Linked DNA regions of Homo sapiens: region 1 is linked to region 2. Evidence: fine-mapped expression QTL. A gene starts in region 2. The other region holds a variant in brackets. All regions are shown on one strand. Distances are between the middles of the regions.

The links.
Region 1: its variant is fine-mapped to the expression of WIZ in whole blood (TOPMed, PIP 0.96).

What each region holds. Positions count from the first base shown.
Region 1 is chr19:15,477,430-15,480,331 of GRCh38, reverse strand. PGLYRP2 (peptidoglycan recognition protein 2) reads left to right here and starts at 831. Exons shown (of 5, transcript NM_052890.4): 1 at 831-1,021. The coding sequence starts at 961. The variant G/T (reference allele first, on the strand shown) is at 1,555.
Region 2 is chr19:15,448,721-15,451,622 of GRCh38, reverse strand. WIZ (WIZ zinc finger) reads left to right here and starts at 1,667. Exons shown (of 13, transcript NM_001371589.1): 1 at 1,667-1,825. It overlaps MIR1470 (microRNA 1470), which reads right to left and starts at 2,075; the gene lies at 2,015-2,075. RefSeq lists silencers at 1,643-1,772, 1,823-1,942, 2,293-2,402.

The sequences.
Region 1 (2,902 bases), 29 kb before region 2:
ATTTACATACACAACAGCCCAGTCATGTCAACCTGCCCCATCTGATGCCAGAATAAAGGGGAGATGGGTCCATTCTGCAGGTCTCAGTCATGGGCACCCGGAGAAGAGGAAGGACATTTCACTGTCAGCCCAGGTGAGTCCAGAAGCCAGCTCCTGGAACAATGCCAGGGTCCTGAACACTCAAGCTCAACCCCTGCTCTCAGCTACTGCTGGTGGCTTGAAATCAAGGGCTGGAACTGGATGAGAGGTGACAGCCCCTGGTCCCCATGGGCTCAGAGCAGGCCTCAGCAAACACTGTCCTCGGCCCCTGCACCCATGCTCTGCCTGAGCCTGAAGTGTTGGTTGCAAAAAAAAGCAGGAGGCAGTGCCAACTTCAGGCCTCAGCAAACACTGTCCTCAGCCCCCGCACCGATGCTGTGCCTGAGCCTGAAGTGTTGGTTGCAAAAAAAAGCAGAAGGCAGTGCCAACTTCAGGCCTCTGCTTCTCTCCTCTCCCTCAACACAGCCGGTCTTACCAGTACAGCAGGCGGCAGCTGAGAGTCCCCTCTGGTGGCCAGCAGCGGCTACAGAGCCGTCACTATGGGGAGGGACAGGACTTGAGGGGTTGCCTCGGTCCACCTCACTGGAGAATGGGCAGAGTTTATGGAGTCTGAACCACCTGGTCTCCAGGCCCCTCTGGGGATGGGCCTGGCTTACTGACCACTGACCTCAGCCTAGGAGGGACAGAAGAGACTGGGGGAGACCAGGATGCCCAGATGACCTTGACCCAGGGTACGCTGCCCCATGTCCCTGCTGCCTCCCGCCCACAGCTCTACGAGAGGCAGGTCTGTCATTCGCCGCTGGACTTTGACAGTGGTCAAAGGCTCTGCTCAGTTCTCTGTGCCTGTCTCCCTCCAGCACTGCCGAGGTTCTCTGCCGAGGCCAACCAGAAATACCCCTTGGAAGCTGGAATCCTGCAACAATGGCCCAGGGTGTCCTCTGGATCCTACTCGGATTGCTACTGTGGTCAGACCCAGGGACAGGTGAGTCAGGGGGCAGAGTCCTGGGACCAAACCTCTTGGCTCTGCAGAAGGCGTACTGCTGTCCCATCTATGTCTTGCCCTGCATGGAGTGAGGCTGGAGACTCAAGCTCTCAAAGAAGCTCCAGCATGGGGACATAGATATTCCCAGCTCCACAGAGTCAAGGCAAGGATAAGGGAAGGAATCTGGGGCCTGGAGAGCAAAAGTAGGGAAGGCTTCTTGGAGGAGGAGACATAAGAGCTAGGCTAGGAAGAAAGAGAAATGATTTGGGGGAGAAGCCAGAAAGGGCATTTTTTGCAGAGAAGAGCAAAGCTACACAGGTTAGGTGGTGGACTGGAGAAGAACCTAGATTCTAGACCAGGAGAGTGTGTCGAGTAAGACTTCCTGGATTCAAATTCTACTACTGGCCAGGCCTGTAATCCCAGCACTTTGGGAGATCAAGGCGGGCAGATCACTTGAGATCAGGAGATCGAGACCAGCCTGGCCAACATGGTGAAACCCCATCTCTACTAAAAATACCAAAAATTAGCCAGGC[G/T]TGGTGGCAGGCACCTGTAATCCCAGCTACCCAGGAGGCTGAGGCCAGAAAATTGCTTGAACTCAGGAGGTTGCAGTGAGCTGAGCACTACTGCACTCCAGCCTGGATGATAGAGCAAGACTCCGTCTCAAAAAAAAAAAAAAAAAACAAAGGCAAATCCTGCCTCTGCCACTTCCTTCCTGTGTGACCTTAGGCAGGTAACTTAACCTCTCTGTGCTTCAGATGCCTCATCTGTAAAGGGACACCATCTTAGTCCCTTTGTGCTTCTATATAGGCCAGGGTACCTGAAACTGAGTAAATTTGTAAAGAAGAGAAATTTACTTTCTTGCAGTTCTGCAGGCTAGGAAGTCCCAAATGCCAGTGCTTTGATCTTGGACTTCCCAGCCTCTAGAACTATGAGAAATAAATGTCTGTTCTTTTTTTTTGTTTTTTAGACAGAGTCTGACTCTGTCGCCCAGGCTGGAGTGCAGCAGCATGATCTCAGCTCACTGCAACCTCCACCTCCCGGGTTCAACAGATCCTCCTGCCTCAGCCCCCCAAGTAGCTGGGATTACAGGTGCCCGCCACCGCACCCGGCTAACTTTTGTATTTTTAGTAGAAACGGGGTTTCACCATGTTGGCCAGGCTGGTCTCAAACTCCTGACCTCAAGTGATCCGCCTGCCTCGGCCTCCCAAAGTGCTGGGATTACAGGCATGTGCCAGCACACCTGGCCAAATTTCTGTTTTTCATAAATTACCCAACCTCAGAGATCTGTTATAGCAGCACCAATGTACTAAGACAGGGGCTAAAAGGACCTACCTCACAAGAGTTGTGAAGACTAACTGCGTTAAATTATTAATATATAAGTCACCTAGACTAGTAGCTAGCACATAGTAAATGTTTACTGAAAGTTAGCTATTATTTGATAACCCATCTCTGAACCAGCTCTGAGCCTAACTTAGCATTTCTAGGTTTGCAGTTCAGCCACTGACATTTCCCCAACATGGCACAAGCCCATCCTGCTCTTCCCCCTGCCTCCCAGGCTATTTTATTTTATTTTATTTTATTTTAATTTAATTTTATTTTATTTATTTTATTTTATGATGGAGTCTCACTCTGTCACCCAGGCTGGAATGCAGTGGGGGGTTCTTGGCTCACTGCAACCTCCACCTCCTGGGTTCAAGCAGTTCTCCTGCCTCAGCCTCCTGAGTAGCTGGGGTTACAGGTGTGTGCCACCATGCCCAGCTAATTTTTGTATTTTTAGTAGTGACGGAGTCTCGCCATGTTGATCCGGCTGGTCCTGAGCTCCCGACCTCAGGTGATCCACCCGCCTCTGCCTCCTAAAGTGCTGGGATTACAGGCGTGAGC
Region 2 (2,902 bases):
TGGTGGTTTCTTTGCCCACTAAGAATTGCCAATTCTTAGGCATTTGCCCCGCAAGCCCTATTCATCTCTCCCAAATTCTCCCCTAATTAGAAGTCTCATGGAGAGGGCCATGTACACAAGTTCTCACCAGCTGTGTGACCTTAGACCTTCATTCTCTTAAGAGCCCGTTTTCTTATCTGTGAAATGGACGTAAAGTTCCCTACACAGTGAGAGGACCCATAGTTAAAGGCATTCGATAAAAGGTATTCACCATTGTTATAGGCAGCACCTGCTTCTCAATGAAGCATGGATTCCACCCCTGGCAACCTCCCAATCCCACAGTGAGAGCATCTTCCTAGGCCCTCCTCATGTCACGGAGGCCATGGGTCTGGGAGGCGGATAAAGGAAGGGGGTCAGGTGTGGAGATGGTTGGATACTGTGTATGAATGATTGGGTAAATGAGTCATTCAAATCATGGGTGAGTGGATGGGTGAGGGGTAGAGTGGGTGGAGCAAACGGCAGACGGATAGGTTAGCATTTGCTGGATGTTTGACCTGGTAGGTGAGTAGCTGGGTAGTTGGTTAACCAGGTTGGGTATGTCTGCCTAGAAAAGGCCTGGTTCATAGTAAGAAAAAATTTTTTTCAATGTTGTGATTATATATATCATATGTACATATGTTGAGGTCTCCTGAGACGCCTGAGAACTGGGCAGTGGAGAAACAATAATGAACTAGACAGGACTCCTGGCCTCATGGAACTTACATGTTAGTGGAGGGACCAAATCAACAGACAAACTGGTGGATGGATGTTTGGGGGGCTGGGCGGAAAGATGTGTGTGGGGATGGTTGGGTACTTGCTTGGTTGTATGGATAAATGAGTATTTACTTGGGTGCTGGATGAATGGGTGGGTAGATGGGAAGTGAATGGGTGGGTTGAGTGGGTGTTTGGGTGAATTAATAGGTGGTTGGAGGGGTGGGTGGATAGGTGATTAGTTCATTGGATAGGTAGATGAGTGATTGATAGATTGAGGAAGTGGATGAGATAGCTAGGTGGTTAGATATCTGGATACATGGTGGATAAGACAAGACAACAGGCCATGATGTGTGTCTGATGGGGTAGTCCTGGAAGCTGTGATCCTGGGAACTGGGTGGAGAAGGTGACTTAGGACTGAAGACCTAGGGCAACTCTAGGGACATGGAGGTGCTGAAGTCCAGTGTGGATGATTGGGAAGGAGGGAGTGAGCTTGTGGTTGGAAGGTAGCTGATGGGGGGCAGGGGACAAAAGGCTAAAAATTGGCTGGGTGGAGTCTTCAATGACCTATCAATGACCCATCAATGACCCATGGGGGAACTTCTCTGCACCCTCCCCACTCTTTTAGTGCTTTTAGCGAGCCTACCATTGGAAGTACCAGTGGGACGATAAGGAGCCATTGGGGTGTGGGACGACAAGGGTGTTGTCATGGTAACGGGGCCTCTCCCTGGACTCAGGCCGTGCGGGCCCTTTAAGGGTGACCCGCTTGGCCACTCCCAACATGGCGGCGCGCCCGCTGGCCGCCCCCCCCGGGGCGGCGAGGGGGGGGGGGGTGGGGTGGGGGGGGCGCCCCGGACCTCCCCATCATGGCGGCGCGGCGGGGCTGTCGCGCTGAGGTCACGGCGGCGCGCCGGGGGGGCGGGGCGGCGGGGGGAGCGATTTAAAGGGACAATGTCCCCCGAGCGGTGGAGGCGGCGGCGGCTGCGGAGGCCGCGGCACCGGCACCGGGAGCGGCAGCGGCGGTAGCGGCAGCGACGGCCGCACCAAGGAGGGGAGCTCCGAGCCCCGGCACCTGGCCGGCGGCGCCGCCTCCCCGGTGAGGCCCGGCCCGGCCTGGGGAGCCCGCGGGTGGGGCGGAGCCGTAGCGGGGCGGGGGAGGCCCCGGGCCGGGCCGGGCCAGGCGGGACCCCCCGGGGCGGGGGCGGGGGCGGGGCCTTCAGGGGCGGGGCCTGGCCGGGGGCGGGGCCGTGCAGGTGGGGGGAGGGGCGGGGGTCTTGGGGCAGGTGTCCCCCCTACCTCGGCGCGTCCCGCGGGGTCTCCTGCCCCGGGGTGCACGGGCGGAGGGCTCATCCCCCGGACCCTGGACCCCCGAGGAGTGGGCCCGCGCGGCGCAGCCCCCACCTCTGCGACCCCTGGGGGGCGTCCGGGTAGGAGCCCCCTCCCCACGCTGCCAAAGTGCTCCGAAGTTGCGGTCCCGCCCGTTCCCCGCGGGCAGTGCCCACCCAGTGGACAACCGCAGGTGCTTCCTCCGGGCCTGGGTAGGGACCCCCACCAAGACTGCCAGCCCACGGAGGAGCCCCCTGGGAATCCCCAGGCCCCCGAGGGCAGCGCCTGCAACCAGGCCTGGCGCCCCGGCCCCGCCCCGGTTGCCTGGGCCCGGCCTCCCCACCATCTCCCTGGGGAGGGCGCCTCATTCCTGCCCTTCACTTTCCGCCGTTACCTTGAAGGTATTTATAGGTAGAGAGGACAACCCCCGCTCCCCAGGGTCCTCATTTCTGGACCAGGAGCCCTATCGTTTTCTTTCGCCCGAGGACTAGAGCAATCTTGGTTGGGGGGTGGGGGGAATGGAGGAGCCCAAGCTGGGTATGCATGAGGGATAATGTTGGGGAGAAGCGAAAGGGTTAATGCTGGGGTCACTTGAGGCTGTGTGTGTGGAGGGGGGTGAAGGGGTTAATGCTGGAGAACCCTAAGGTCCTGTGTGGGGGAAGGGTTGGAGTGTGGGAAAAGTGCAGGGATCATTGGTATGGGACAACCCAATGGAGAAAAGTAAAGGGGTAATGATGGGAGACTCCTGACGGTGTATAGGATCAGAGTGTACAAGTGGCTGGGATTCTTGCCGAGGAAACGAAGGCATGGCAGTAGGATGTGCGTGTGCATGGATGTGAGGGCAGGA